Linked DNA regions of Homo sapiens: all the other regions are linked to region 1. The links come from fine-mapping of genetic effects on gene expression. A gene starts in region 1. Each other region holds a variant in brackets. All regions are shown on one strand. Distances are from middle to middle. Region 1 holds the start of LINC02218 (long intergenic non-protein coding RNA 2218). Region 2 holds the start of TAF11L13 (TATA-box binding protein associated factor 11 like 13). Region 3 overlaps LINC02218 (long intergenic non-protein coding RNA 2218). Region 4 overlaps LINC02218 (long intergenic non-protein coding RNA 2218).

The links. PIP is the estimated chance that this variant, and not a neighbour inherited with it, causes the effect.
Region 2: its variant is fine-mapped to the expression of LINC02218 in whole blood (TOPMed, PIP above 0.99).
Region 3: its variant is fine-mapped to the expression of LINC02218 in whole blood (TOPMed, PIP 0.91).
Region 4: its variant is fine-mapped to the expression of LINC02218 in whole blood (TOPMed, PIP above 0.99). The same link has a PIP of 0.9 or more in neutrophils.

The regions. Positions count from the first base shown.
Region 1 is chr5:17,440,530-17,448,639 of GRCh38, forward strand. LINC02218 (long intergenic non-protein coding RNA 2218) reads left to right here and starts at 3,481. Exons shown (of 3, transcript NR_134270.1): 1 at 3,481-3,705. LINC02217 (long intergenic non-protein coding RNA 2217) reads left to right here. Exons shown (of 2, transcript NR_134275.1): 2 at 940-1,165.
Region 2 is chr5:17,629,912-17,638,021 of GRCh38, forward strand. TAF11L13 (TATA-box binding protein associated factor 11 like 13) reads left to right here and starts at 2,177. Exons shown (of 1, transcript NM_001401695.1): 1 at 2,177-2,773. The coding sequence starts at 2,177. The coding sequence ends at 2,773. It overlaps TAF11L14 (TATA-box binding protein associated factor 11 like 14), which reads left to right and starts at 4,549. Exons shown (of 1, transcript NM_001401687.1): 1 at 4,549-5,142. The coding sequence starts at 4,549. The coding sequence ends at 5,142. RefSeq lists an enhancer at 1,961-2,713. The variant T/C (reference allele first, on the strand shown) is at 4,850.
Region 3 is chr5:17,461,941-17,470,050 of GRCh38, forward strand. The region is part of intron 1 of LINC02218 (long intergenic non-protein coding RNA 2218); the gene reads left to right. Among named protein-coding and RNA genes, the nearest start is that of LINC02218, 22 kb to the left of the region's middle. The variant T/C (reference allele first, on the strand shown) is at 4,828.
Region 4 is chr5:17,474,243-17,482,352 of GRCh38, forward strand. It overlaps LINC02218 (long intergenic non-protein coding RNA 2218), which reads left to right. Exons shown (of 3, transcript NR_134270.1): 2 at 3,373-3,514. Among named protein-coding and RNA genes, the nearest start is that of H3Y2, 14 kb to the right of the region's middle. The variant C/T (reference allele first, on the strand shown) is at 3,461.

The DNA of each region.
Region 1 (8,110 bases):
GTGCTTTCTCTGTGGGGCAGATAAGGTGAGGAGGTGATCACCCCAATCCAAGAGGCTGAACTAGGTCAAGACTGGGTTGACATTTTAGTAAAATCCTCTCCACTTCTAGCTATGTTTTTATTCCTCAGGCCTGTCTCTTCCACACTGTTGATTGACAGCTCTGAAAGAAAGTGGAAGTTTCGGGCTGTGTAGTATCCTGCCGTATGCTCCATCCAAATTTGATGAGAATCTTGGGGAGACCAGCCACCTTCTGAGCAGACTCCTTTCCTCCAGTGGAACTTTTCCTCCCAATTATTATGGGACTTCTGAAGATTTTAACTTACTTTGCAGAAACTCCTAACCTTTTACTCAGCCTCAATTTAGCAAGGGTACTATGAGGAAAATTGGCAAGGCATTTGGGGATACTTTTGTTTCCAAATTGTTGTGGTTGCTTCTATGAATGCCACAAGCTTTGCTGGCTTCTCTTTCCTTCCTACAGTGCTTCTGCATGAACCAGATCTGATCTGTGTTTCAAATCAGCAAACATCCCAAGAAAGAAAATAGCCTGTGAAAGGTAGCTAATCTTGGCAAAACACTCTGCTCTCTGGAATTTTTGTTCTTTTAATTCTTTTTGTTTCCATAATTCACTGATCTCTTTATATGGATTTTTTTTGCAATTAATTTGTCGTTTTTAGTTAGTCTAACAGGATTGTATTCTCCTGCAACTAACGGCATTCTATTTATAACCACAAGTCCCCTTAGGGTCAACTTTTAAGAAGCCTTGGGCAGCTATGTTCTTCCAACCTAACAGTCCATAAGATCTTCCCCTATTTTTCCAGAAGCTTCAGATGAGACTATCACAAAGAAAAGTATGGACATATGTGACAAATAGAGATTACAAATTAAATTCTTACTGTCCAACATGAAAAACTTGACTGTCCTTTTTTTCTGTGTGTCCAGATATACAGGGAGTCCACGGAGCCTCCCCTGCAAGCATCAGTACAGAAGTCGATGATAATCTGGATGCAAGCCCAGGAGTGTGGAGTCCACTGACTCAGAAGACCTGCATCTAAGGAATTGGCTGTTCTTATCCTTAAGAATGATGACTGTGTTTCCAATTCCAGTAGACCCTTTGATGCGTTCTGAATAAATATTCCTTTTGGAATTGAACTTCTAGAGCCCTTAACTTTGGCCCACTCTAGTTTTCTGTCTGTTTTTTTTTTTTTTAATATTTTTTTTTTGTAAAGATAAGGTCTTGCTTTGTTGCCCAGGCTGGTCTTGAATTCCTGGACTCAAGCAATCCACCTGCCTTGGCCTCCCAAAGTGCTGGGATTATAGGTGTGAACCATTGTGTCCGATCGCTCTCTGGTTTTTCTAATATCATGATCCCAACTCTGTTCTTTATGTAAATTTCCCTGATCACATGGTTGTATCTTGGCATTTCAAAATCCTTGACAGACTTTGTTTTGTTTGAATTTTACAATGAACTTACATGACTAGGCACGGTCCCCAGTTCAGTTTTATAGACAAGGATTCTGTAGGTCAAGAAGTGAAACACAACCAATAACAGCAGGTGACAGGATTTAAACCTGGGTCACTTTACTTATTTTTTTCTACTCTATCATTATGTGAATCTATCCTACCTCTGCAATGACAGATGGCCCTAGAGCAAGAACACTTCCTTACATCTGGTATACAGTCAAAAAGTAAAAATTCCACACAAATAAATATGGAAAGAATTTTTACCTGCTCCTATAGCTTCCTTTCAGGGACCTGGCACCCACAAATGTTGGGTAACAGAAAGAGGACTTATGTAACTTAACTCAAAGCAGAAAAGTTACAGAGACTGTCTTAGCATAATAGAGCATGGAGTGGTCATGCTTGGATGTGCAAACTGTCTGATAGTCTTGCACATGGCTTGACCCCGAATTACACTAGTGGGGCAAGTTGCCTGGGGCAAAGCAAACTTATTGGACCCAAAGCTCTCATTTGAGAATTTTGTTGACTAAAAGTTATAAAATATCAGCAATTTCATATGGTTCAGCCTAATATTTTATCACTCTTCCTTTTTCTATTCTAAAACAATAATTTTTAATAACGTAAGCTATACACATACATGCTTTAAACATACAACACCCTGACTATCATATAGTGGATATTTCAAGAAGTAAATGTTCAGCATGTCTTCACCCCCACTTGAAGACATAATGTATGTATTAGGCTGTTCTGGCATTGCTATAAAGAAATACCTGAGACTGTGTAATTTATAAGAAAGGAGCTTTAATTGGCTCACGGTTCTGCAGGCTGTACAGGAAACATATTGGGTCTACTTCTGTGGAGGCTTCAGGGAACTTTGACTCATGGTGGAAGGTGAAATGAGAGCAGGCACCTCATGTGACTGAAGCAGGAGCAAGAAAGAGAGAGCGAGCAAGGTGCCACACACTCTTAAACAACCAGAACTCTCTCTTGAGAATTCACTCACTGTCTTGCCGTCAGCACCAAAGGGATGGTCCTAAACCATTCATGAGAAATCCTCCTCCATGATCCAATCACCTCTCACCAGGCCCTACCCCCAACACTGGGATTACAATTCAACGTGAGATTTGGGCCTGGACACAGATCCAAACCCTATCAATATATTAGCCAGATACTTGCAGCTGTATGAAGAATACCCTGGTTACCCAGCTACAAATGCAGATGTTATTGATAAGGGAGGGGGGCAGGGAAGTGCTGGGAGGAGAAAGCAGGTCTCTGGCGAGGGCTTCACCCCGGTGCCTGTGCCCACAGACCTAGGTAAGGGCAGGCACTCCTGCCTTTGCGCCCAAATGTTGCATTTCCCAAGACCACCCTGGCCCACCACGCCCCCATCCTGTGCCTATAAAAACCCCGAAACACTAGTGGGCACTCACACAAGCGGCTGGACGTCCAGAGGACGTCAACAAGAGCACGCCGACAGGCAGACCCTGGCAGGCCATCGACTGGCGGAAGGACATGGAGTTTGGCTGCGTGGTTGGAGGAGAGCCAGGCCGCTAGGTGGCCTGACTCCAGGAAACTACACCTTCCCACTCCATCTCCCTTCTGTCTCCCCTGTCTGCTCACAGCTACTTCCTCTCAATAAAACCTTGAACTCATTCTCCAAGCCCACGTGTGATCTGATTCTTCCGGTACACCAAGGCAAGGACCCTGGGATACAGAAAGTCCTCTGTCCTTGAGATAAGCCAGGGGGTCTAATTGAGCTGACTAACACAAGTCGCCTACAGATGGCAAAACTAAAAGAGCACCCTGTAACACACGTGTGCCCACTGGGGCTTCAGCTGTAAACATTCACCCCTAGACACTGCTCTTGGGTTGGAGCCCCACAACCCAGCCGTCCGCATGCTCCCCTAGAGGTTTGAGCAGTGGGGCACGGAAGAAGCGAGCCACTCCTCCTGTTGCACACCCTGCGGGTGGCGCAAGGGAACGTTTCCTGTTTCATCATCAGGGATATTGTATCGGTGTCTTAAATAACACTAGCATTTTGACATATTTGGAGCTGCTACTGGGCCAGCTCTGTTTCCAGGCCTGCCTTTCAATCTTTTCCTTGCTTCTGGCATGAGTTACCATCTCTTTTAAGAAATTGGTTATGCATTTGAAAATACACGTAGCTATACATACTTTAAACATATCATTTAGCAAGGATGCTCCTTATCGGACCGTTGCTGGGAACAGAGAACACGACAGTTCCAGGTGAGCGAAATAGTGTGATCTCATACATGATGAAAGCTAAGCAGGCAACAGCTTTTCCGTAAGCAAGCATTTCAAAATGTATTTGTAGAAAGGCAGTAAAAGAATAAGATGCAAATCAAGCTATTTTTAAACCATCGTTTTCAGGGCCAAGGAAGAAATTATGAGAATGAATTTTTTAAAAAAAGATTATAAGGTCTTTAGTGGTGTTTTTAGTTGAAGTAATTTAGAGATGATTAGGTATTGCTATTTTTTATTCAATTCTTTACAACAAAAGCTTACAGAAATAGAAAGCTTTGCCATTTCTTTTCCCCACAACTTTAAAAAGTAAAGAGTGAGTGTTGGGTCACAATAATCTTTCTTTTTTAGTCTCCTTTTTGTGCAAATTCATCCACCATCAAATTACATTGTACTCCTTCCTCCTCTGTGACTACCTGTGGAAGAATGTTTATATAAATAAACCCAAAGGCCTGTCTTTTTGTCTGTTGCTCTGAGTAAGTGGTGCAAAATAGATGCCTTAGTCTGGTGATTTGATTTAATACAAATGGACCTTGTTAGAACACTTCTTTACACCTGAGATATTGGGAGATTTACTTGTAACCTTCCTTGCTACGTGAACAGCAGTAGTATTTGCTGTTTCTAAGATGTGTTGTAGTTTGAAAGATTTTGTTTGTATCATGCCAAAGTGACTGCATTAAGAAGTTCCTAGTTGACTGATTAAAACAAAACAAAACAAAACTCCTTTAATCATTCAGCTGTTTGACCTATGCTAGTGTATAGGTGCTATACACAATTATATATTTTGATGCTTTCTGTTTTATTATGTGGCAGTGTGTAGTCCCAGTATTTATGCTAATTATATCGTTCTTTGGAATCCAGTTTTTCTTTTTGTAAATTTGGATTAAAGTCTATCATGGCTCCTTTCAAAGAGAGCACTAAATGTAAATGGAGGGTTCTTTGATACCATTAGAGAGATGGGACTGAGATCTCAAAGAAATAGGCTGCACTGGCTCTGGGGTGAATGGGTCCTATGACTTGTAGGGCTTCAGAGTAGGACACACAACTCTGGGGCTAAAGCTCAGGACATTGGCCATGCAGTTGAACATTTCTGCCCGTTCTTTCCTGGTCCTGCCCTGTGCAATTTCCAGCTTCTGTAAATACATATTGAAGGTATGTATACATAGCAAAGGTGTGCCAAAGTGTACAGTTGCTCAGATTATTTGCACACCTTGGTTTGGCCCTGGCCAGTTGAAGGAGTCATGAGGAAATACCTTGCTGCGATGACTTCTGTCATTCATTTCTCTGTGTATATTGGTACTAATTGATTTTTTTTGGCAGAGTTTAAAGTACTTTTGAACTTTTCCCCTTTCTTCTCTCCTCTGCTTCTTTTTCCAGACTGTTTCCAAGATTGGATGAAGAGATTCAATTGACAATGCTGTGAAGAGAGGGATTTGGAGCTTGTTGGGGGAGGTAGTGTTGACTTCCTTGTGCAATCTAGGATTGAGTGGGGGATGCAGTTGGAAGGCAAGAGAAGTAAGACTCCTCCATCTTCCTGGTCCAGAGAAATTATGCTGGATCCCCCTACCCTTAATGAGAAAGGAGGTGTTTGTGTTTCCAGCATCTATGAGATCTGATTGCTAATGTAGCTACCTTTAAAGAATTCTGCTATTTACAATAAAAGTGAGATCTCCCTCCTCCATCCTGTGTTACACAGCCTGGGATTGCACCGTTGTTCCTGGCACCTTTGCATTGCAGGAGCCTGCCTTTGACTTTCTTTCCTCTCCACACATCTTCTATTCCTGCTGCTTCTCTTTTCAGAAAGTGCTGAGCTTCTAGGCTAGTGTCCCTCTCAACGGATGAATATTCAGCAGAGAATGGAGAGCTTTCAACCGTAAGAATCAGGATGTGGCTGTTTATAAAGTTATTGCATTTTTTTGAAGAGTGGCTGCAATTAGTTTTGGTGTTAGGCAGCAAAAACCCCAAAATGTTCTTTCTGATTTCATGTTGCTTGCATAATACAGATACCCATTTACTGGAAGAAATCTTCATGGGTAAGTGTATGAGTGTGTATGCATAAGTATGTGTATGTGTGTGTGTGACTCCACATATATTCCTAGAGTGCCTTCTATGTGCCAGGCATGGTGTTAGTTGACATATGTAATTGAGAGTAAAACAGTCATGATCTCTGCTCTTAACCAATTTACAATCTAGGATAAAATAGACCTTCCATGTTCAAATCCACAATGACATTAATTGCAATATGATCATTGTTGTGCTTGAATAATAGCTAAGAAAAGCACAAAGAACTTACAAGGTGGCTTAACAGAAGAACATCATCTAGCTTAGAAGTCTGGATAGCCCCTTTCTAAGAAAGCGGTACGAGTAAGGATGAATAGGAATAGGCCAGATAAAATACGAAGCCAGGAGTTGGAGGTGGACACGGGGGAGGGAGGTGACATTGTACTGATGGAGAGATGTGGAGAGCTGAGGAGGCTGATGAATGTAGAGAAAGTTGAAGTGTCACTGGATTGCAGTTCTTGATAGGTAGAAGTGTTGTATGAGGGGACGAAAACAAGGCCATTGGAAAGGGAAGTTGAAGATGGTGGTGGTGGTGTTTGTGAAGGTATTTATATTATTGCAGAATTATCTGAAGTGCAGTTTCCAATGTTAACCAAATTCATGGTGTGACTGTGGAAGTTGGTGCTTGAGGTGAATGATGACAACTATCAGTGGGTATCAGGGTAAGGAACTGCTGGGCAAGGTGTTGATGGTGCATCCAAGTGATGTTAAATCTGCTTAGCATGATGGTAGGGTTGGGTGAAAAGGAGACTATGAGTTGAGTGCTAAATTCTTTAAGGAGTGACCAAATGATTAAGTGAGGACTAGAGGGAGAAGAAGCTCTTATTGTCAACTACTCAAAGGAGCAACTTACAAAAGAGAGTGCAGTCATTCGTCTGCAAGTGGCATTGGGTAGTCAGGAGGACGTTGCCTTGGTTCTGATACTGAGATATTTGGAGTTTGATGGAAAATATCTCCCAGCCCCTGCTTGAGAGGAGAAGCAGTATCCTTAGGGGACAGTGGGTTTCAGTGAAGTCGAGAAACTGTGGTGTGTGTGTGTGTGTGTGTGTGTGTGTGTGTGATAACTTTGAGATAATGATGGGTTAGAAACATGTAGATTAAGGTAAGAAGAGACTACCCTCAGGCATTCATCTAAACTTTGAATTTCTTCTAGAAACCTCCTCTCAAGTCACAGTCAAGTGATCCAGCAATTGCAAAATCACTCTCTTCTAATGTGTACCATTTCACTTGGTAGCTCTTTCTGTTGAATAAATGATACTCTATATAATAGACACTCAAACATTCTAGTATTTTCTATGCAAATGTGTAGAAAAAAGTGTTTGGGGGTATGAAGTCAGGGTAGGTAGGCTGAAAGATGATTTTATTTATTTATATTTGTTTCTGTAGTGCTCATGTGATTTAAAATACAAAAATTAGACATATATGTTGGAAAAGTGCATCAAAACCTGAAAAATTAATTTACAAACATTTTATGCTATGGTTGGAGTTATGAATGTAACTTGTCTGAAGATGCTTCCTGATCATTGTGCTTCATTTTCTTCTTATTTGTACTGTAAACATTGTACAGTTTTTATTTGACAGATGAACATTAGCACTGAAGAAGCAAATTGAATAAAATATAGGCATTTAAGTTAATTTAAAATGTAAGTTTTATTTTATTTTTGGATGGGGTCTTGACTGCATCCTGAAAACATAGCTGGTCTTTTTATTACCTTAGTGTAAGCTGTGTAGTCAAAAGAATAGTGGGAATGGTCACTGTGTGTGAGTATTGTTCCCGAGGTAAATTCTGTCCTAGGCAACTACTAGCCAAAGGATCTTTCAGAAATACTCTCCCAAACCACTGCCCACTGGATAGCAAACACAGTATCTATTTTAGAGGAAATTATTGCATTAGATTAAAATGGTTAAATTGTCTTAACATGCCACGATCTTATCTTTTAATGAAAACATTTTTTATTAACTTTTTTTAAAGGAGGACAACTGCTCTTCAGATTTCTCCCATGAGAACTGGAGATTAAACTTTGATTTTCCTCCTTTTATCCTCCCCGACAGAAGCTGTATATTTTGAGGATAACCACTTGGTTAAAAGCAAAATAGCCCTAAATAAACACACATACCTCAAAATGAATGAGCATTTCGGGTATAGTCTTAGATTTCACAGTGTCAAACTGACTGGGTTGAGAAAGCCACCAGAATTTCATAGCTCAAAGTTCAGGTTTTATACAGGATTTATATGTCCTGTAGAATATTTTGTTTGCTGCAGTTTGAAATGATAGTATCTTCTTCTCTAGGAAACTAATGTTTAACAGATAAGTGCAACCAGATTGCT
Region 2 (8,110 bases), 190 kb after region 1:
GTCATTTTGTATATAAACATTAGTTAATTTAATTCTTTTCCTTAGATAAAAATAAACATAAATCAACATTAAATTTTGTTCTTTGTGCCTCAATTATCTTGCATATTTTGGGGGCATGTGGCCTTCTAATCTTTTCATTTAAGAAGTCATTAATTTAGATCTCTCTCTAGGGTGTTTATCTCTCTAGATAGAGACCTACTAGAGTTTAAGAGAAAAATGAGGAGTATATAAAGCTTAGATAAATTCAGTGTCTTTTTAGAGTATAGTGAGAGATAACTGTATATGGTAATTAATTTTTATGAGAAGTTTATGTATCTGTGTTTGTTTTATTTCAGGGGTTAATTTTCAAGTTTTGGATGGTTCTCCCTCTTTGAGTTGCCATTTGTTTCTGCTTATAACCTACCGATCATGACTTCAGTACCAGTAAATATTGGAAATGAAAGGCCCTATGTGACTTACAAAGATTCCGATGTAAATATGTTTTCCTGGTAAAGACGGGTTTCACCATGTTGTCCAGGCTGGTCATGAACTCCTGACCTCAGGAGATCCACACAACTCCGCCTCCCAAAATGCTGAGATTACAGGCATGAGCCACCGTGCCTGGCCAGTAATTTCATATCTTCTACCAACTATTTTTGAATAAACAAAAGCTCTTTAAAAGTCAGATATTTGAGTGTCTGCTTTATCTTCTGAAGTAGTTTTTATGCCATTTATCAACATAATTTTCCCTAAATGTGATGTAAATCTTTGTGCATGACGTAATTTTATGTCTCTTTGGTGCTTCTCTGTGACCTATGTATACATACACATGTAATATATAAAATTGAAATCTGGGCGCAGTGGCTCATGCCTGTAATCCCTTCACTTTGAGAAATCAAAGTGGGGCAGATCACTTGAAGTCAGCAATTCAAGATCAGCCTGGCCGGAATGGTGAATCCTCGTCTCTCCTTGAAAAAATACAAAAATTTGCCTGGCGTGGTAGTGCGCACATTTAGTCCCAGCTACTCTGGAGGCTGAGGCAGGAGAATCCGTTGAGCCTAGGATGCAGAGGCTGCAGTGGGCTGAGATCAGGCCACTGTAATCCAGCCTGGGGGACAGAGCGAGACTCTGTCTCAAAAATAAATAAATAAATAAATATATTAAAAAAAATAACATTGAAATCATATTTTCTTATTCCCATCACCCAGCCCAGTTTATTTTCAGAGTGCCTGATAAATCACTTGTTTCCCTATGAGTTAGGGATTTTTTTCTCAGACATTTAAATTTTCTAATGCGCAATTTCGTAAAATGTCTCATTTTTACTGTAAATAGTTTCTTTATTGTTTCTTTATTGTTGTGAGGAATCATTCGATTCTGTGAAGAAGACTGAATTCTGAAATGTCCCTTGCATTTCCCTCCCCTCAGAGACTCGCCCTGTGTCTGCCCCTCCCTTGGGTGTGGGCGGAAGCATGAATTGATGTGCCCGCCCAACTTCCTGATTAGATTAGGGATATCCTGAACCAATGGCTGCTAAGGGCTGGGTCTAATTCAATCATCTGAGCCCTTTATAAGGGAGGACTGAACCCCCCTGTGATTACGCTCCCCTGTGGGAGATTCCCCAGCACTGGCTGTGCACACCCAGGGAGCCTCACGGCCCAGACCTGGGCAGCACGGGTAGGAGCTGAGAGCATCCTCACGGCAGCAGGCAGAACAAACAAGTGGGCCTGGGGCTCACAACCCTAAGGCATTGTTGAATTCTGCCACCAACTCGAATCATATCGAAGCCAGACCCTTCTCAGGTGGAGGCAACGACCACACAGCCAGACCCATCCTGGAGGTCCCTCCTGGGACTCTGAGCAGGAGGCAGTCACTTGGCCTAGCAGAACTTCTGACCTGTGAGCTGGTGTTTGTTTTAAATACCCAAAATTGGTGAGAATTCGTTCTGCATTGATCTAAAACTAATATACTCTCCTTCCACAAGTTTCTTCACACTGTGGAAGTGAGAAAATTCAGTGTGTGTGTTTGTGTGTGGGAAGGGGAGGCCGGGAACTGTGTCCGGTTACGGCGAAACTGGCTCAGCAGAAACACAGCAGCTAAAATCTTTGAAAGGTTCTCATCGCAGATCCATAATCAAACCACCCCAGCCGGAACTTCTGCCTGTACAGCTGCTGTCACGGAGCAGACTTGAATCTCACCCATGGAGACCGGCAGGCAAACAGGCGTGTCTGCTGAGATGCTCGCCATGCCCCGAGGTCTGAAGGGCAGCAAGAAGGATGGAATCCCTGAGGACCTAGATGGGAACTTGGAAGAACCCAGGGATCAGGAAGGTGAGCTCAGGAGTGAGGATGTCATGGACCTCACAGAAGGTGACAGTGAGGCCTCAGCCTCAGCTCCTCCTGCAGCCAAAAGACGGAAAACACATACGAAACGCAAGAAGGAGAGGAAGCCCACCGTGGATGCAGAGGAGGCTCAGAGGATGACAACCCTGCTGTCTGCCATGTCTGAGGAGCAGCTGTCCCGCTACGAAGTGTGTCGCCGGTCAGCTTTCCCAAGAGCACGCATTGCGGGTCTGATGCGGTCTATCACTGGCAGTTCGGTGTCTGAGAACGCGGCCATTGCCATGGCTGGAATAGCCAAGGTCTTTGTTGGAGAGGTGGTGGAAGAGGCCCTGGACATGTGTGAGATGTGGGGAGAGACGCCCCCGCTGCAGCCCAAGCATTTAAGGGAGGCTGTTCACAGGTTAAAGCCCAAGGGCCTCTTCCCCAACAGCAACTACAAAAGAGTCATGTTCTAGGCCCAAGGCCAGAGGGCAGGGTCTGTTTGTGCAGGAATAAGTACCGCGTTCATCTTCCAATGACAGGAGTGTGTTTGCTGGAGCTTCTGCATCTCAGTCCCACCTGGATTTACCCACGATCTTAGTGTCTTAAAATGTGAAGTTGCCCTTACCTGGATGAAGACAGCAGATTGTTTCATAGGAGCCTTGGCTAAATCTTTGGGCATTTTAATGGGATGTGGAGGCGTTTTTCTATGTCTTTCCAGTTGGAGGAATCAAGGTGCCTGGGCCAAGAGCATCCTGTGGACAGGCAGCTGCATTCAGAGAGGGAAGCCCTTCCCAGGAGATCTGCATGGTTTCCTGCTGAAGCCTGGTGTAGCTGTGTCTTAGCTTGTATGCTTATGTCTGGGTTCCAGTAATTGGAGCTTGCAGAAATGTTTCCCCGATTGTTCTTCTGTACATTTTCAATGCTCATATGTATTTTTGTGAGTCATCTTGAAAACAGTTAAACTGTTCAACTGGTTTCCAAACTGCAGAAATCAAAATGAAATCACAAAACACTTTTTTTTCCCCAAGTTGACTCTTCTATTCCTGCCTGCTGTGCTTTATGCCAGCAAGTGACCCTTTCCTGTATTATAATGCAATATAGTATAGATGCATCATGTAAGACTAGAGAGAAACCAATTCCAAAACCACCTTTCCTCAAGCCGCCATTTGTAACGATCATATGGGCGGTTTAAAGGACACAGAGAGGGCCTATTGATACTTCACTTTGGCTATACGTGGTGATTTTTGCAGTGCTTCCGGAGACACTGAAATTTAGTTCCAAACATTGCCTTAGAGGATTCTTGATATTATTCATTCTGCCGATGATCCACTCAGAAAATGAAACCTGAGTACGGCGACATTGGAGAAGTCGTTAAAGCATTGGACCAAGTCGGTTCATCACGAGTGACAAAGATATTCCACACTCTAGTTGTACATACTCTGCTTTACCTTCATGATGGAAAAGAGTAATTTTTCGCTATAGAGTAAAAACCCGAGATTTATTATGGAATCACCGTGAACCTTCCCAGCACAGCTCACAGATCATATGCCAAAAATTACAGTGTGATTCAGTTTCAAAAATTGTCTGTAGTGACCTGTGAATTCACAGCTCGTGAGGACATTCTTTAGTTTGGCGGAAACCAAAAAACCTGAAACCATTGAAATTGAAAAAAATGGAGTCTGCCAAATTCTGCCTCTTACACTTTCAGCTACCATGCCATGTTCAACTATTGTACTTGATAAGTATTGGAAACTTAAAGTACTGATAATTTCAATAGAGTTTCACCAAAGTAGTATTTCTTGTGAGAAAGCCATAATCTCGAATCAGGTCAAAGCCAGACCCTTCTCAGGTGAAGGCAACGACCACACAGCCAGAGCTATCCTGGAGGTCCCTTGTGTGACTCTGAGCAGGAGGCAGTCACTTGGTCTAGTAGAACTTCTGACCTGTGAGCTGGTGTTTGTTTTAAATATCCAAAATTGGTGAGAATTGATTCTGCATTGATCTAAAACTAATATACTGTCCATCCACAAGTTTCTTCACATTGTGGAAGTGAGAAAACCAGTGTATGTGTTTGTGTGTGGAAAGGGGAGGCAGGGAGCTGTGTCCAGTTGTGGCTAACCTATGGCTCAGCAGAAACATAGCGGCTAAAATCTGTGAAAGGTTCTGATTTCAGATGCATAATCAAACCACCCCAGGTGGAACTTCTGCTTCTACAGCTGCTGTCATGGAGCCAACCTGAATCTCACCCATGGAGACCGGCAGGCAAACAGGTGTGTCTGCTGAGATGTTCGCCATACCCCGAGGTCTGAAGGGCTGCAACGAGGATGGAATCCCTGAGGCCCTAGATGGGAACTTGGAAGAACCCAGGGCTCAGGAATGTGAGCTCAGGAGTGAGGATGTCATGGACCTCACAGTAGTTGACAATGAGGCCTCAGCCTCAGCTCCTCCTGCAGCCAAAAGACAGAAAACAGATACCAAAGGCCAGAAGGAGAGGAAGCCCAGTGTGGATGCAGAGGAGGCTCAGAGGATGACAACCCTGCTGTCTGCCA[T/C]GTCTGAGGAGCAGCTGTCCCGCTATGAAGTGTGTCGCCAGTTAGCTTTCCCAAAAGCACTTGTTGCACGTCTGATGTGGTCTATCACTGGGAGATCGGTGCCTGAGAACATGGCCATTGCCATGGCTGGAATAGCCAAGGTCTTTGTTGGAGAGGTGGTGGAAGAGGCCCTGGACATGTGTGAGATGTGGGGAGAAATGCCCCCATTGCAGCCCATGGATTTAAGGGAGGCTGTTTGCAGGTTAAAGCCCAAGGGCCTCTTCCCCAACAACTATAAAAAAGTCATGTTCTAGGCCCAAGGCCAGAGGGAAGGGTCTGTTTTTGCAGGAGTAAGTACTGCATTCATCTTCCAATGACAGGACTGTGTTTGCTGGAGCTTCTGCCTCTCAGTCTACCCTGTATTTACCCATGATCATAGTGTCTTAAAATGTGAAGTTGGCCTTACCTGGATGAAGACAGCAGATTGCTTCATAGGAGCCTTGGCTAAATGTTTGGGCCTCTGAGGTCATATTGTGGCATTTTTGTATGTCTTTCCAGTTGGAAGAATAAAGGTGCCTGGGCCTAGAGCATCCTGTGGACAGGTAGCTGCATTCAGAGAGGGAAGTCCTTTCCAGGAGATTTGTATGGTTTCATGCTGAAGCCTGGTGTTGCTGTGTCTTAGCTTGTATGCTTATGTCTGGGTTTCAGTAAGTGAAGCCTCCAGAAATGTTCCCCAATTGTTGTCCTTCTCTGTATTTTCAATGCTCTTTTGTATTTTTGTGAGTCATCACAAAAACAGTTAAACTGTTTTCCAAACTGCAGAAATAAAAATAAAATCACAAAGCATTTTTTTCTCTAAGTTGACTCTTCTCCTATTCCTGCCTACTGTGCTTTATGTCAGCAAGTGACCCTTTACTTTATTAAATGTGATACAGTATAGATGCATCACGTAAGACTAGAGAGAAACCAATTCCAAAGCCACCTTTCCTCAAGCCGCCATTTGTAATGAACATATATGTAGTTTAAAAGGCACAGAGAGAGCCTACTGATACTTCATGTTTGCTACACATGGTGATATTACCAGGGCTTCCAGAGACACTAAAATTTAGTTCCAAACATTGCTTTAGAGGAGTCTTGATTTTATTCATTCTACTAATGAGCCACTCAGGAAATCAAACCTGAATACAGAGACATTGGAGAAGTCGTTAAAGTATTGGACCAAGTAGGTTCATCACGAGTGACAAAGTTATTCCACACTCTACTTGTACATACTCTGCTTTACCTTTATGATGGAAAAGAGTAATTTTTCATTACAGAATAAAGACCTGGGATTTATTATGGAATCACCGTGAACCTTCCCAGCACAGCTCACAGATATCCATGGTGCTATTTCAGTCTGTTTTCCTTTGCCATGTGCCCCCTGAATCACAGAGTATAAGCAAAAAGGATCGAAAAGACCCCATAGTTCAGCTCTAATATTGAATGGAGAATAACATGTTCTCTTTCTTCCTGAAGCCAAAGATACCCCCATGAAATATATTTTTATTTCCTCATACACTCAGCTTTTGCTCTTAATATAGGACTTATTGTACATAGAATCTGCCTTTGGGTAGCACACAAATTTCTAAACTTTACCAAGTATGGGGAAATTATGTTTCATACCTCCATATTCTGACATCGTTTAGCTTTCCTTTTATTTTACCAAGTTTCTTGTAAAGGCATTTAACAAGTTAGACCAGTGTGTCTTAGAGACACAAGGAGGGTACAGGTTCTTGGAAGAAATGATGGAGATGTGAGGGCTCTGTCAGGAATTGAAGTGCTTGAGCAACCAAAAGAAGTGAGATCCAAGAGACTTAATATCTCCTAGTCTTTATATTGCTCTCAGCTCATTCCTTTTTCATGGCATTGAGCAGTCTTGGAAGTTGTATTCTGGCAGATGTGGCAGGTCGAGCCCTTTCAGAACACTAGAGGAAAAGAGAACCTGGCCCAAGCAACCTGAGGTTGAGACAAACATCTGCAGAGAGCAGTGCTGATGGTGATTCCACACTCAAGCTTAGAACATTTTTCTGGCCCCTGATAGAACTCAATACTTTGAGTGGGGTCTGAGTAAAGCTGAACTGCTGAAGACAGAAACAAGTTCCCATCAAGGTCTCAGAGGTCAGTTCAGGAGCTGGAACACAGCGTTGTTTTCTCAGAGAGGAAAATTGGATTAGCTGAGAAGGTTCAGTGTCCTTACACATTCTTTTTTTTTTTTTCCTTTAAATTTTGGGATACATGTGCAGAACGTGCAGGTTTGTTACAAAAGTATACATATGCCCTAGTGGTTTGCTGCACCTATCAACCCATCATCGAGGCTTTAGGCCCAGCATGCATTGGGTATTTGTCCTAATGCTCTCCTTTCTCTTGCCTCCCACCCCCTGACAGGCCACGCTGTGTGATGTTCCCCTCTCTGTGTCCATATATTCTCATTGATCAACTCCCATTTATGAGTGAGAACATGTGGTGTTTGGTTTTCTGTTCCTGTGTTAGTTTGCTGAGAATGATGGTTTGCAGTGTCATCCATGTCACGGCAAAGAACACGAGCTCATTCTTTTTTTATGGCTGCCATGTATTCTATGGTGTATATATACCACAGGTTCTTTATCCAGTCTATCATTGATGGGCATTTGGGTTGGTTCCAACTCTTTGCTATTGTAAACTGTGCTGCAATAAACATATATGTGTATGTGTTTTTATAGTAGAATGATTTACAATCCTTTGGGTATATAGCCAGTAATGAGATTGCTGGGTCCAGCGGTATTTCTGATACTAGAGGAATCACCACACTGTCTTCCACAATGGATGAACTAATTTACAGTCTCATAAACATTGTAAAAGTGTTTCTATATCTCCACAGCCTTGCCAGCATCTGTTGCTTCCTGACTTTTTAATAATCACATACTAAATCTTCTCAATATATAATATCATACAGCCACAGCTCTCAAGAAAGAAATCTGTAGAAAGTGGTATCTTTCCAGGAGAAATCTTTGACAGCTTTCATGACTGATTGTATTACATGTTAATGAAGTTTTTCCTGGAGCTTCATTACTGTTCTTAAAGTCTATCTCATAATGTACATTTGGAGACTGCCTAGAAAAATGTGGTCTCTGTTTGGTGCTGGTAAAGTGGTGACAAGATACCTAATAAAGTGACTGTACTTGACTATTTTCCATAATTTACTATTTTGGGATAAGCTTAACATCTTCACTGTCTGCCTTTGCCCTCCACAAGTAATTAGCATAT
Region 3 (8,110 bases), 21 kb after region 1:
TCTCGACTCTATCCAATTTGTTAGTCTGTGTCTTTTAATTGGAGCATTTAGCTCATTTACATTTAAGGTTAGCATTGTTATGTGCGAATTTAATCCTGTCTTCGTGATGCTATTTGGTTATTTTGCACACTAGTTGATGCAGTTTCCTCATAGTGTCATTGGTGTTTATATTTTGTTGTGTTTGTGCAGTGGCTGGTACCAGTTTTTTCCTTTCCATATTTAGTGCATCTTTCAGGAGCTCTTGTAGGGCAGGCCTGGTGGCAATGAAGTCCCTCAACGTTTGCTTCTCTGGAAAGGATTTTATTTCTCCCTCACTTATGAAGCTTAGTTTGGCTGGATATGAAATTCTGGGCTGAAATTTCTTTTCTTTAAGAATGTCAAATATTGGCCCCCAATCTCCTCTGGTTTATAGGGTTTCTGCTGAGAGATCCACTGTTAGTCTGATGGGCCTCCCTTTGTAGGTGACCTGGCCTTTCTCTCTGGCTGCCCTTAACAGTTTTTCCTTCATTTTGACCTTGGTGAATCTGATGATTATGTATCTTGTGGTTGATCTTCTCATGGAGTATCTTAATGGTGTTCTCTGTATTTCCTGAATTTGCATGTTGGCCTGTCTTGCTAGGGTGGGGATGTTCTCCTGGATAATATGCTGAAGTGTGTTTTCCAGTTTATTTCCTTTCTCCCTGTCTCCTTCCGGTACTCCAATCAATTGCAGGTTTGCTCTTTTTATGAAGTCCCGTATTTCTTGAGGCTTCGTTCATTCCTTTCCATTCTTTTTTCTCTAATCTTGTCTGCATGTCTTATTTCAGCAAGGTGGTCTTCCAACTCTGATATCCTTTATTTTCTTTAGTTGATTTGGCTATTGATACTTGTGTATGTTTTACGAAGTTCTCATGCTGTGTTTTTCAGCTCCATTAGTTTGTTTACGTTCCTCTGTAGACTGGTTATTCTAGTTAGCAATTCCTCTAACCTTTTATCAAGGTTCTTAGGTTCTTTGCATTGGGTTAGAACATGCTCCTTTAACTCAGCGTAGTTTTTTATTACCCATCTTCTGAAGCCTACTTCTGTCAATTTGTTTATCTGATCCCCTATCTAGTTCTGTGCCCCTGATGGAGAGACTTTGTAATCATTTGGAGAAGAGGCACTCTGGCCTTTTGGGTTTTCAGCATTTCTTCACTGATTCTTTCTCATCTTCGTGAGTTTGTCTAGTTTCAGTCTTTAAAAACCCCACCTGACCCTCAGGTGGGGTTTTTGTGGGGGCTTTTTGTTGTTGTTGTTGATGCTGTTGTTGTTGTTTTTTGCTTGTTTGTTTTTCTTTCAATGGTCAGGTCCTTCCGTAGGGCTGCTGCAGTTTGCTGGGAGTTCACTTCAGGCTCTATTCATCTGATTCGCTCCGGTGCCTGGAGATGTCACTCAAGGAGGCTGGAGAACAGCAAAGTTGGGTGCCTGCTCCTTTTTCTGGGACCTCTGACCTCGAGGGGCACTAACTTAATGCCAGTAGGACTGCTTCTATATAAGGCATCTGACAACCCCTGTTGGAGGGTCTCATCCAGTTTGGTGGCACGGAGAGCAGGACCCATTAATAAAGCACTTTGTGTCTTGGTGAAGGGGTTGTGCTTCTCTGGGGGGGAACCCACTTGTCTAGGCTGCCCGGATTCCTCAGAACTACTGGGAGGAAAGGTTTGCAGAGACTGTGGCCACCCCCTTTCTGAGGGGCTAGGCCCAGGGAGATTCAGCTTATTCCCCTGAGCCTCTGGCTGGAGTTATTGGAGTTCTGCAGGGAAGCCCCGCCCAGTGAGGAAGGATGGGTCAGGGTCAGGGTCAGGCCTGAAGAGGCACTCTGGCTGCTGACTGCCACAACTGGTGTGTTAGGCTGTGGGTACAAGCCTTGGGAGCAAGCCGTCCAGTCTCCTTGGCTCCAGCAGGGGAAAAGAGCAGCCTGGAGCTTTAGAGATGGATGCCACCCTTCCCCCACCCAGGGAGCTTCCGTGTTAGGCAGTTGCAAGTCCTAGTGCTGGCTGCTGCCCCTTCTCCAAGGAGCTCAAATGGCTTAGACAGCAGGCAGCCTCAGCTGTGTTGCTGGTTGACCCTCCTCCCGGAGGTTCGGTGGGTTTAAGCAGATTCCAACTGTTGAGAATCTGTGTGTTCTGGGGTTGGGACACTAGGCCCTGGCGGCATGGGTTCACAAATGGGATCTTCCGATCCATGGGTTGCACAGTTCTGTGGAAAAAGCACGGTTTCCCGGGCTAGGTAGCACACTCACTCACCGCCTCCTTTGGCTGAGGGGAGGGTGCTCCCCTGCCCCACGTGGCTGCAGCACCACACTGTTCTTCCTCCTCTCTGTGGGCCACACCAGCCTTCTAGTCAGTTCTGATGAGAGAACCTGGACACCTTGGTTGCCGGTGAAGGAGTCACATGCTTATTATGTTTTTTTTGTTTTGTTTTTTTTTTTTTTTTTTTTTTTTTTAATAGGAGCCACCCAAGGCCGCTGTTTCTAGTCGGCCATCCTGGCCCCTCCTATTTCTGTATTTTTAGTAGAGACGGGTTTTGCCGTGTTGGCTAGGCAGGTCTGGAACTCCTGGCCTCAAATGATCTGCCCACCTCGGCCTCCCATACGGGTGTGAGGCACTGCACCCAACCACTCTTTTATTCTTTTCTGCAGATTAGGCTTTTCATCTGTTGTCATTTCCTTCAGCCTGAGGAACTTGCTTTAACATTTCTGGTAGTGAGGTTTTGCTTACAATATATTCTCTAAGCCATTGTCTGAAAATGGCTTTAATTCACCTTCGTTTTTGAAAAATGAACAGTTAACATTTTTCATTTAGCATTTTAAAGATATCATTTCATTATCTTCTTTCTTTTTTTCATGAGAAGTCAGCCATCATATTTATTGCTGTCACCCTGAATATAATGCATAATTTTTTTCTTTAATTGTTTTTAATATATTTTATTTTAATCATTAGTTTTCACCAGTTTGGCCAAAAAATTCCTGGATGGGTTTATCTTTGTGTTTGCCCTGCTTGCAGTTTGCAAATTTTTTGGATCTGTTGATGTATTTTTATCAGTTTTAGAATAGGTTTTAGCTATTATCTCTTCAAGTATTTCCTCTGTTTCATTCTAATCTCTTTCTGGGACCTGAATTACACATATGTTAGATGATAAAATATTGCCCCAGAGGTCTTGTATGCTCTGTTCGTGTGTGTGAATTTATTCTTTTTTTTCTATATTTCTGTTTTTAAGTTAATTTGCTTATTCTTTCTTCTGTAGGTCTGGCCTGCAATTAAACTGATTTAACAAACTTTTTATGTATGGTGATGTATTTTCAGTTTCGTAATGTTTATGATTTGGTTGGTTTTTTTCTTTTAGGTTTCTACATCTGCGCTGAGATTCCACATCTGTTCATCTATTTTGTCCACCTTTTCCCCCAAATTTTTAATCAGAATTCTATTAACTGTTTTAAAGCCTTTGCTAATTTCAACATCAAAGTCAACATGTCAATATCACCAGTCTGAGGATCTGCTCCTATTTACTATTTTTTTTTTCTGTTAGTTGTGGGTCATATTTCCATGTGTTTTTGTATGCCTAGTAATTTTTGATTGGATGATAAACATTTAAGACAATAAACCTTTTGTTATCTTTTTATAGAGTGTTAAATTTTGCTTTGGAAGGTGACTAAGTTACTAGCATATTCCCTTGATCTTTTGGAGGCTTGGTTTTAGAGTTTTTGAATGGGCATCTGTTATAGTTTTTCCCTTAGTTCTGTGCCATAGACTTTAGTCATGATATGTGTTTCTTATTCCTAATGTGTGGTCCTTGTAGAGTCTTAATGAGCAGCAACGGTATTTATCAAGCTCCTCTAACCTCGCCAGATTTGAGCTGTAGGCTGGAGAGTCACTAGGTAGCTGCTGAGGTAGTTTCTCAGTTCTTTATCCTTTCAGGTGCTGCTTTCTTCTGGATTGCTTAGATTCTCACCACGAAAATAGACAGTTTAGGTAAAAGCCAAGGATTCGAGGAGAGTTTGTTTGCAGATTTGGCAGTCTCCCTTTTTTCTGAATATTTTTCTTCCAATTTCATGTTCTGCTAGAATCTCTGAACTTCAGTCTTCCTGTCCTTTTCCCAATAGGATTACATTTCTTGGTTGATTTTCATTTTCTCTTTGTACTGCAGGGAGCCTGAACGTGTTATCAGGGGAAAAGCCAACTAATTACGGAGCTCACCTACTGTGCTCCTTCAGTTTCTGCCTGCTTTGGATTGTATACCAGTGCCTTCAAACAGTTTAAAAAAAATTTGTCTGCAGTTTATATTCTTATTATAGGAGATTTAGTCTGATATGAGCTATTCTACCACAAATGGAAACAGAATTTTTGCATAAACTGATATCTAACATTAGTTGCCTGCCAGTCCTTTGTCATGTGCTGTGGGAGAGATTTATGTACCTTAACAATGATCCACATAACAACACTACAAGATAAGTATCATCATTGTCATCATCATCATCAATCATCACCATCGTATTACTGAAAAGAAACTGAGGCAGAGAGTGATAACAAACTTTCCCAAGTTTATAAAGTAAGGGACAGATGCAGGATTCAATTTTGTGTATATATATATACTTTTTTTTTTTTTTTTAAATTGTCTTTTTTTTTTTTTTTTTTGAGACGGAGTCTCACTCTGTCACCCAGGCTGGAGTGCAATGGCATGGTCTCAGCTCACTGCAACCTCTGCCTCCTGGGTTCAAGCAGTTCTCCCACCTCAGCCTCCAGAGTAGCTGCGACTGTGTGCCACCACACCCGACTAATTTTTGTACTTTTAGTAGAGACGGGGTTTCAC[T/C]ATGTTGGCCGCACTGGTCTCGAACTCCTGACCTCGTGATACACCCGCCTCGGCCTCCCAAAGTGCTGGGATTACAAGCGTGAGCCACCGCGCCCGGCCTTGAGACGTAGTCTTGCTCTGTTGCCCAGCTGGAGTGCAGTGGCACGATCTCCGCTCACTGCAAGCTCCGCCTCCTGGGTTCACGCCATTCTCTTGCCTCAGCTTCCGGAGTAGCTGGCATTACAGGTGCCCGCCACCACGCCTGGCTAATTTTTTGTATTTTTAGTAGAGACGGGGTTTCACCGTGTTAGCCAGGATTGTCTTGATCTCCTGACCTCGCGATCTGCCCGCCTCAGCCTCCCAAAGTGCTGGAATTACAGGCTTGAGCCACCGCCACCGCCCCCAATGTTGTATATATTTTATATAAAGCTTGTAATTATGCCAGTGATTATCAGACTTGGCTGCAGATTGAAATTTCTTGGGGAGTTTTAAAACTACTGATGGTTTGATACCAACTCTACAGACTTTTAAAAAAAAATAACCAGTTGTAACTATGATTTGGCTATTGAGATTTTAAAAGTTCCTCAGATGTTTCAAATGTGCAGCTGAGACTGAGAACCATGGTGCTATGCCGTGGTTCCCATGATACCAACTAAATCCTGTAACCAGGTCTGTTGATGCTAATTTAATTTTTTTCTTTCTAAATAATTACAGAATAAAAAGATGTTTTATATAGTTACTATTCTGATATCATGATTAACAATGAAAGTAAGACTTTTTGAATATCTCAAATTAGTTTTTTTAAAAAGCCAATCCATTGGTAAGGATTCTGGTTGCCGTTATCTATATATGAGTGATAATGCTTATGAATGTAATGAGTGTTTCTATTTATCGTGTAATAAGAGCTTTATACTTGTTCACTTGTTTTGTGAATAAGAATAGGAAATAAAATTTACAAGAGCTATTGTATTACTTTTTTATCTTTTTTACTTAATATGAAGAAAATAAATAGCTAATAATGAGAATAAAAGCCAGCCTAGCATGCGAGTCACTTGCCGATGCCTAATGACCGGTTGCTGATAGCGGCTGCTTCACGTTGATAGTGCAGTAAGGTGATGTGGGTGATTGTGGGTGATGAAAAGTTTCTACAGAGAGTCTGGGGGCCTCAGTTTCGGTTTGAGATATTAGCCTGGTTTTCTAGTGTGACCTGAAACTGCCTCAACTTCTCTATACCTTCTCTATACCGAGGTATAGAGACAGTTCCAAGACAGCAGTTGGAATTGAGGCCCTTCTGGCTCCAACGTTTTGTAATTATCAAATTATTTCCTCCTTGAAATACTCTTTCTCTGAAGACAGTAGAACAGTCAAAAGTAAAAGTATACTATTTGAATATGTTTTTAACTGCACCTATTTCGGTGAATAAATCCTGTAATAAACTGATGATTTGGAAGTAGAGTGGATGCTGCTAAAAGCTCAGTTCATCTGAGAAAATTCCAGATAGGGGAAGCTTGATGTAGGCAGAGAAAATGAAGAACTGTGGTAAAATTTAATGAATAGCTGATGAAGCCCATCTGACCCTCTGTGTCAGGAGGTAACCAAATGTGTCTTTGTTGAGAAGTCCTGTGACACAGAGCTGTGCTTCCACCTGGCAGGAGATGCTGGTATTGGTGGCTGCCTGCATTCAAGCCCCTCTTTCCAGAATGGTAACATTGTGATTTGCTTTAGTCAGGGTTCCTATTCTTGCTGGGGGAGGTATGGCTCTGATAGAAAGGTAATAAACCCACCAGGAAGGGCTGATTTGCGTTGGCTGGCTGCAGCATTGAATTGGGAACAATAGATGGGATAATAATGCAGTGGTTGGAGGCGGTTTGGCTTTGACCTGGGTATCATTCATAGGTTGAACACAAAGCTGTTTTTACTCGTAGTTAAACATTTGGCAATTGCTGATCAGTAACAATGTACTAGATGTCCTACTGCAGTAGCATGGTTCAGTGGGCATAACATTGACTGAACTAGAATGTAAAAATATTTGTACTTAAATGTGTCTGTTTTGCTATTGATTGCTCTTGTGAATTTGGAACCATCCTTTGCCGTCTTGGCGTGTGTGTGTGTGTGTGTGTGTGTGTGTGTCTGTATTCATTTGCTTTGAGATGTGAAATCAGGGGAGAGGGTATCTTCAGTAAGATGAGTTTGAAATACTTAAAGGAATGAACCAAAATGAAGGTCAAAATAAAAAAATTAAGAAAAAAATATCAAAGATGTGAAAAAGCTGAATGACAGTATATTTTTATGTAAAAGATTTTCTAGACAGAATATTTGAAATATTGAGGCCCCAAAGCTCCAATGGTTAAGCCCCCAAACACCAATGGTTAAGAACATAAATGCAATGAAAAGACAAAGGATTGTTGACTCATAGATTTACTAGGTACTTTACATATTACTTTACTTTTTACAGTCTTTGGGTAGTGTTAATTATGTGAGTATATTACCCTGTTCTCTTGTTTGTAAATCAAGGTTGCCAGTTCACAGGTGGAATTTGAGGCCATATTCCATTCTTTGAAGAAGCTCTCCAACATATCAGAATTCTACACATTTTACTCTCTTTTTGTTACTCTTACTTGGCATAAATACATGCATTCTGGAAAGAATCTTTAGTGTGCGTGTGTGTTTGTGTGTGTGTGTTGATTATACTTAAGCAGCATTTTTATATACCTTCATTTTAACAAGAAGAACACATATATGTGATAAAGGTAGCATAGGTGATGTTGGGAGGAACATGAGTAGACAGTATGAATTCCAGGATTCTTCAGATCAGAAGTATTTAAGGGTGTGATATAGGTGTAACCCTGTTTATGTTCTACAGAATAGGGGAATTTGTTTTCAGCTTGGACTAAATGAGCAGTTCCTCGCTTGATTACCTGCCACAGGAGTTCAAGGGTTCAAACTTTTAGAATGGTGGTTTATAGCACCTGGAAGGGGGGAGGCATGGGGAATGGAGGGGATGCAGCCTCAAAGGCAGGTAGTCAGAACAAAGCACTCTACCAAGAATAAGGAAAGTGCAGGATTGTGTGAATAGAACTCTTTTCCCCAGTCCACTCCCGGGAAAATACAGCATATGAGCTGAAGCAATTCTTTCATTGGGAGACAGTCAATGCTTTGAATAAACCTTGGGAAAGTGCATAATCAGTAACAAATTTTCTATCAAAAAAACCCCTGCAACACAGTGAAGGGGCAATCTAAATATTGAGGCCAGGTTGTATGAGACAGGAATTACATAAGACACATAAAAGAGAGGATAAGAAAG
Region 4 (8,110 bases), 34 kb after region 1:
GAGTATAGCTAACCAGGGAGGTGAAAGAATTGGCAAAATATTGTTCAATTACAAATTATAAAGAGAATTACAAAACACTGCTCAAAGAAATCAGAGAAGACACAAACAAATGGAAAAACATCCCATGCTCATGGATAAAAAGAATCAATATCATTAAAATGGCTATACTCTCCAAAGCAATTTACAGATTCAGTGCTATCTGTATCAAACTACCAAAGACATTCTTCACAGAACTAGAAAAAACTATTTTAAAATTTATATGGAACCAAAAAGGAGCCTGAATAGCCAAGGCAGTCATAAGAAAAAAGAACAAAGCTGGAAGCATCATGTTACCCAGCTTCAAACTATACTACAAAGGCTACAGTAAGCAAAACAGCACGGTACTGGTATAAAAACAGGCATATAGACAAGTGGAACAGAATAGAGAGCCCAGAAATAAGGCTGCACATCTATGACCATCTGATCTTTGACAAAGCTGACAAAAACAAGAAATGGGGAAAAGACTCACTGTTAAATAAAAGGTGCTGAGATAACTGGCTAGCCATATGCAGAAGATTGAAGCTAGACCTTTTCCTTAGACCATATGCAAAAATCAACTCAAGATGGATTAAAGACTTAAATGTAAAACTCAAAACTATCAAAACCCTAGAAGACAACCTAGGCAATACTATCCTGGGCATAAGAACAGGCAAAGATTTCATGACAAAGACACCAAAAGCCATTGCAACTAAAAGCAAAAATTGACAAGTGAGATCTAATTAAACTTAAGAACTTCTGCACAGAAAAGGAAGCTATAAACAGAGTAAATAGCCAACCTACAGAATGGGAGAAAATACTTGCAAACTATGCATCTGACAAAGGTCTAGTATCCAGCATCTATAAGGAACTTAAACAAATTTACAGGAGAAAAACTAACAACCACATGAAAAAGTGGGCAAAGGACATGAACATACACTTCTCAAAAGAAGACCTACATGCAGCCAACAAGAATATGAATAGAAGTTCAATATCACTGATCATCAAAGAAATGCAAATCAAAACCACAATGAGGTACTATCCCACACTAGTCAGAATGGCTATTATGAAAAAGTAAAAAAATAACAGATGCTGGCAAGGTTGTGGAGAAAAAGGAACATGTGTACACTGTTGGTGGGAGTGTAAATTAGTTTAACCATTGTGGAAAGCAGTATGGTGATTCCTCAAAGAGCTGAAAGCAGAACTACCATTTGACCCAGCAATCCTATTACTGCTTATATACCCAGAGAAATAAAAATAATTCTACCATAAAGATACATGCACACAAATGTTCATTGCAGCACTATTCACAATAGCAAAGACAGGAAATAACCTAAATGCCCATCAATGACAGATTAAATAAAGAAAATATGGTATATATACACCATGGAATTCTATGCAGCCATAAAAAATGAGATCATGTCTTTTGAGAGAACATGGGTGGAGCTGGAGTCCATTATCCTTAGCAAACTAAAATAAGAACAGGAAACCAACTACTGCATGTTGTCACTTATACGTGGGAGCTAAATGATGAGAACTTGTGAACACAAAGAAGGAAACAATGGCCTGGCATGGTGGTTCACACCTGTAATCCCAGCACTTTGGGAGGCCAAGACGGGTGAATCACTTGAGGTCAGGAGTTTGAGACCAGCTTGGCCGACATGGTGTGAAACCCCATCTCTACTAAAAATACAACAAGTAGCCAGGCTGGTGGTGCATGCCTGTAATCCCAGCTATTCAGGAGACTGAGGTGCAAGAATCACTTGAACCTGGGAGGTGGTTGCAGTGAGCCAAGATCGTGTCACTGCACTCTAGCCTGGGTGACAGAGTAAAACTGTGTCTTGTAAAAAAGAGAAACCAAGAAACAGAGAAGGAAACAACAGACACTGGGGCCTACCTGTGGGTGGAGGGTGGGAGGAGGAAGAGGAGCAGAAAAGATAACTATTGGGTACTGGGCTTAGTACCCAGGTAATGAAATACTATGTACCACAAACCCCCATGACACGTTTTTACCTGTTTAACAAACCTTCACTTGTACCCCAAACCTAAGATAAAGGTTAAAAAAAATTCACTGGTCTAAATGCTTCCTTCAGTGCACCCATGAGGTCCCTCCATAGTATAAAATACACACGTATTGGCCGGACGCAGTGGGTCACACCTGTAATCCCAGCACTTTGGGAGGCCAAGGCAGGCAGATTGCCTGAGCTCAGGAGTTCCCGACCAGCCTGGGCACACAAACTCTGTCTCTACTAAAATGCAAAAAATTAGCCAGGCATGGCAGCATGTGCCTGTAGTCCCAGCTACTCAGGAGGTTGAGGCAGGAGAATTGCTTGAACCTGGGAGGTGGAGGTTGCAGTGAGTTGAGATCGCGCCCTTGCACTCCAGACTGGGTGACAGAGCAAGACCCTGTCTCAAAAAAAAAAAAAAAAAAGCTACATGTATTACATACACAATCACATATTGTATGACAGAGTGAGACTCTGTCTCAAAAAAAAAAAAAGCCACATGTATTAACATACACAATCATATATTGTATGACAGAGCAAGACTCTGTCTCAAAAAAAAAGCCACATGTACTACATACACAATCATATATTGTATAAGATAATTTATATACAATTTTATAAAATATTAAATATATTACATAAAATAGTATTGTATACTAATATATATGAAATAGTAGTATATACATGTAATATATAATATTTGGCAGTATTTAAATGCTATGGGATAAAGACAATAAGGAGAAAATGGCTAAAAGATAGATATACATGTATATGTACATAAATTTCAATATGTTAGCATATACATATTAATATGTTTGATGTTATTACTGTGTACTAGTATCTATCTATATTTAGCTTGTTAATAAATATGCTTGCTCAAGACTAGATTAGAGCCTTTGTTAATTATGTTGCTAAGGCGCTCTTGCTTTCCTCTGATACCCATCACCAGGCCGAGCTTCAGTTTATTTCCAATCACTGTCTCTAATTATCTGGGAGATGTACTGTGGCTCGTTGCCTCTCATTCTGCTTTGAGAGGTTCTGTCTTCACCAGCTGCCAGGGTTTTCTGTCCCTGGGTCTCTGCCACACTGAGGTATAGGGGAAGCTTGTTCCACTCCCCACTTTTTTTTTTTTTCTTTGCTGGAAGAATCATCTCTGAAGGTTTTTCCCTGACAATACACTCTCCTTGAACTGAATATGTCTAAACACAGTTGGTTTCACGGACATTTGATCTGTGCAGTTGCACAGGGTCCATTCTCAGAAGAGCCTGGTACTTACTTGACTTAATTCTCTGCTGTTTTGATATTCTGGATAATTTTTGAACAAGAAGCCCTACATTTTTATTTTTCACAGGTTCCTGCCAATTATAGAGGCAGTCCTATTTCAAAATGCCATTAAGCATCCTTCTGAGCTGCGGAAAGTCATAGGACCAGTCTTCAGC[C/T]GTGCCCATTACAGTAGCAGTGACAGCACACCACTTTGCTCATGATACGGATCAGTAAGTGTTTAAGTGAACTCCGCTCTATCTGCAGATGTTAAGCACTCACTCCACACCCCCTCCCACACTGAGGCCCATGCAATGAAGAGTAAGGGACCTTCTCATAGCCTATGTGATGAATATTGAAAACTCTAAGACTGAATCTTTACTTCATGCAAATAAGTTCTTGAAGGAATCCTCTTAAAGTCTGTCATCATGTTATTAGAGACACAAATTCTCTTCAACTCTAAGGTAGCAGCCAGTAGCATGTTGCATAGCTGAGTAGCTTTAACAGAAGGAAGGAAACGTAGCACTGCATTAGTTTCCCAGGGCTGCCGTAACACATCAGCACACACGAGGTAGCTTAAAACAACAGAAATTACTTTCCTTACAATTCTGGAGACCAGAAGTCTGAAATTAAGGTATCAGCAGAGCTTTACTCCCCAGAGGCTCTGGGGATGAATGTGATCCTTTCCTTTTCCAGCTTCTGGTGGCTGCAGCTGTCCCTTGGCTTGTGGCTGTGTCTCTCCTTGATCCATCTTCATGTCACCTACTCCTCTTATGTGTATCTCTCCTCTGTGTGTCTGTCCCCAAACTCAGACCCTTTCCTAAAACGATACAGGTGGTTGCATTGAGAGCCCAGAACATGTGATTGCACTTAGAGCCCAGACAGATGATACTGGATGCGCATCTTTTTGGGTGCCACCATTCAGCCCACTACAAGCACCTATGTTGATAGGAGTGTTTAAGATATTCAAGCAGGAGGCCAGGTGCGGTGGCTCACACCTGCAATCCCAGCACTTTGGGAGGCCAAGGCAGGCAGATCACCTGAGTTCGGGAGTTTGAGACCAGCCTGACCAACATGGAGAAACCATGTTTCTCTAGTAAAAATACAAAAATTAGCTGGGTGTGGTGGTGCGCGCATGTAATCCCAGCTACTCAGGAGGCTGAGGCAGGAGAATTGCTTGAACTTGAGAGGCGGAGGTTGTGATGAGCTGAGATTGCACCATCACACTCCAGCCTGGGTGACAGAGTGAGACTCTGTCTCAAAAAAAAAAAAAAAAAAAAAAAAATTCCAGCAGGCAACATGACAACATTTGGGAAGGTGTTCAGTGCACATGCAAGGCACCTTCATTTTTAAACTAGGTGTTCCTTAAAGCACAAAACCCAAAGCTGTCACCTTCTCAAAGCTGATTCAGAGATCCATGTTTTCCATGTTGTCAGGAGTGGAAGGCTTTTGTGGTATATTCCTTTCTCTGTGATTTTTATAGTGAACCTTAAAGATGTCTGCCCTAAATGTTCTACATTATTCTAGCTTGTTCACTGGTTCAAAGGCTGTAGTATAAATTTTGCACAAATGATTCATCTCAATTCTCTTGACCCTTGGAAAGTGCTCAATACACAGTCAGCTCTGGTTAAATTTCATATTTAATAGATGAGTCTATATGCTGTCATTTTCATCAATACTTTTGTGTAAGAAACTAGGAAACATGAAAAAGTCACTTAGTTTCTCTAGTCCCATTGAAGGGTGATGGGATTAGGTTGATTTTTGGTTCAATTCCTTTGAATTGAGAATTCTGTATTTTGTAAAGTAGCACGTAAGCACTATGAGGGTAGAAATTAAAAAGAAACTTTTTATTATGGAAAATTTAAACATATGCTAGATAATGTGTTCCTATGCACTCATTACCCAGATTTAACATTTAATAATTCAATTCAAAGTTAACATCATCTAACCCCTCTTGTCATATTATTAAACATATAATAAGCAGTTTGTTGACAATTTAATCTCCAGTTTAAAAACATATACTGTGCAAAGAATTCTGCTTTTTTCAAGATCTTCACAACCAAAGCCTGTGATGCAACTTTTAGATGCATAAATGCTACAGAGTTTTGGGGAAATAAAACAACTTCAAAGTTGGTGCCAGACCTATGGTATGAGGAATACATTTTTTATTCCTCTTTCCATTGTGTTTCTTTAATTTTGGAAATTCTATGAGTTGAAAATGAAGGGAGAAAATGGGAGGTGTATTCATTAGCATAGAGATGGTTGTAAGAGGCAAGAATGGATGAGGTTGTCAGGAGAACCAGGAAAAGGGGAAAAGTAAGAGGCTGAGAGAGTGACCCTGATAATTGATGACCATTCAGCCAGCTAGAAAAAGATGAGTTCACTAGGAGACTTAGAAGTATGTTGGCCTAGCGTGGTGCTCACTCCTGTAATCCCAGCACTTTGGGAGGCCGAGGCGGGCGGATCACAAGTTCAGGAGTTCGAGACCACCATGATGAAACCTCGTCTCTACTAAAGATACACAAAATTAGCTGGGCATCGTGGTATGCGCCTGTAATCCCAGCTACTCGGGAGGCTGAGGCAGGAGAATCACTTGAACCCAGGAGGTGGAGGTTGCAGTGAGCCGAGATGGCGCCATTGCACTCCAGCCTGGGCGACAGGGTAAGACTCTGTCTCAAAAAAAAAAAAAAAAAGAAGTATGTCAACACAGGGAAATCAACCTAGAATAGCTTGGGAACCTGATCCAGAAGCCACAGGAAAAGGATTTTTTTTTTTTTTTAAAGGAAATGAGTGGTGAACATTGTCAAATCCTGCATTTGACATATGAGAGGAGTGTCAGTGGCGTGATGAAGGCAGAAGCCAGACTTGAGAAGTCAACAGAAGTTGACCAAGAGGAGACAGGCCGGACTGACAACTCTCAGAAGGAGCCCAGTTCTTAGGTGGGAGGAGAATAGCCAATAGCTAGTGGGTAGATGAGGAGAGTGAAGTTAATTATTTTCAAGGCAGGAGACATTGACAGTATTTATCTGCTTCTGGGGTAAAAGTAGTAGAGAGGAAAGACAGAAATAAATAAATAAGGGATATTTTCAGAGAGGCTACTGTGGGACTTAGACCACAGGTAGAGAATAATTTATAGGTGGGGGAGGAATCATCATTGTGATGAAAGAGAAGGGAGAAATCTGAAAAATCTGATCTGGATACAGATGTAGACACGTTTAAGGGTAGGAACCGATGTGTTTCCATCTGATATATATATGCTTTATATATATATATATATATATATATATATACACATACACACACACATATATAGGTGTGTATATATCTAATAGGCATATAGATATACATACCTATATATAAAAATTATATATAAGTATAATATATAATAGATACAAGTACTATATATTATACATATATATATAATTTTTTGAGGGAGGTGACAATGTGGTCTGCTGAGAAGCCAGAGACTATTGCTATAATCTCAGTGAACACTAAATACTTATGGAATAAATGCTAATAAGCAATGTTAAAAAAACAGATGTATTCTTAACAATTTGTTGGTAATTACCTTTTTCTCCCTTTTTTTTCTTTTTAGCTTGCATTTTTTTCCCTTTTTAATAACACTCAGTGATGGTACCTAAACAGAAATTATAAAATAAAATAATCATTTATTTTTATGGAGAAAAAATAAAATAATTATTTATTTTTATGGAGAAAAAATAAAATCAACCAACTAACTGAAGTGTTAAATCTAAATTGGTCTTACTATATTCCAGAGAGTTTTAGTGGTAATACAATCCTTACACAACACACACATGCTCACACGCACACACACACACTCCAGAAATCAAATCATCCAATGTAAATGCACCCTACAGTCAACCTGAAAGCCTTTAGGAATAAATACGTGTTTCTTACCATGCTCTGTGATTGCTACCCCCTTGGATCTTCACGCCCAATGCTAAACACAAGTGAAGCATATACATCTCTAAGACCCAGAGTTTGTCAGCTGATTCTTATTATTCAAGGATGGGAGGAGAGCTGTTAGAGGAACAAGGCAGGGGAAAGCTGGCACAGCATTGTTAGAAATCTCAGTACAGTGGTTCAGAGGAGGCAGCTTGCTTCGATAGGGAAAGGTTAGGGGATGGAGGGGCATAGTTGGGTTTGAATTTTCTTTTTCCACTCCTAAGGAAATGCCAGTTCCTATAGAGCACACCGCTCTTTCTTTTCTGCTCCCTTGCCCCTTATTTTCTTCTTCTTTTATTTTCTTCTGTCTTGATCTTTCCATACCCCGAAGTTAAAGGATGGGGGTGCCCACTAGAGAGCAGAGTCGATTCAGATCTGGTAGAATGAAGAATTGGAATGAATCTTCCCAGTCCATGTAGCTTCTATGTTCTACCATGAAGGGAACTCATCTTTCCCAGCTCCCTTTTATATTGTTCAGCTAAAAAAGGAAGCATCAAAATAATTTGTAAGCACTGTGTTGGTTTTTGTAAACTTCAGATTCATTTTAGAGTCATCAGAGAGCTAACTTCTGCTTATACCTATTTGATACCCAACAAGAAATTTTGCGACAATAAAATGAAACACTTATGGTCTCTGAATATCATAAACAGTTTCAGTTATGTGTTTAAATTCAGTATCTGTGTAATAATTAAAGAAATTACAACAGGATAAACCAAGTAGGAAATAAGTGCCTGGAACTATGCTTGGTAGATTTAGGGCATCTAAGGCATTGACCGGTTTTCTGAAAGACCATGACAGTTAAGAAATTCCCCTGCCAGGGATAAAATTAAAAAAAAAAAAAAACTTTAAAATATCAGATCTTT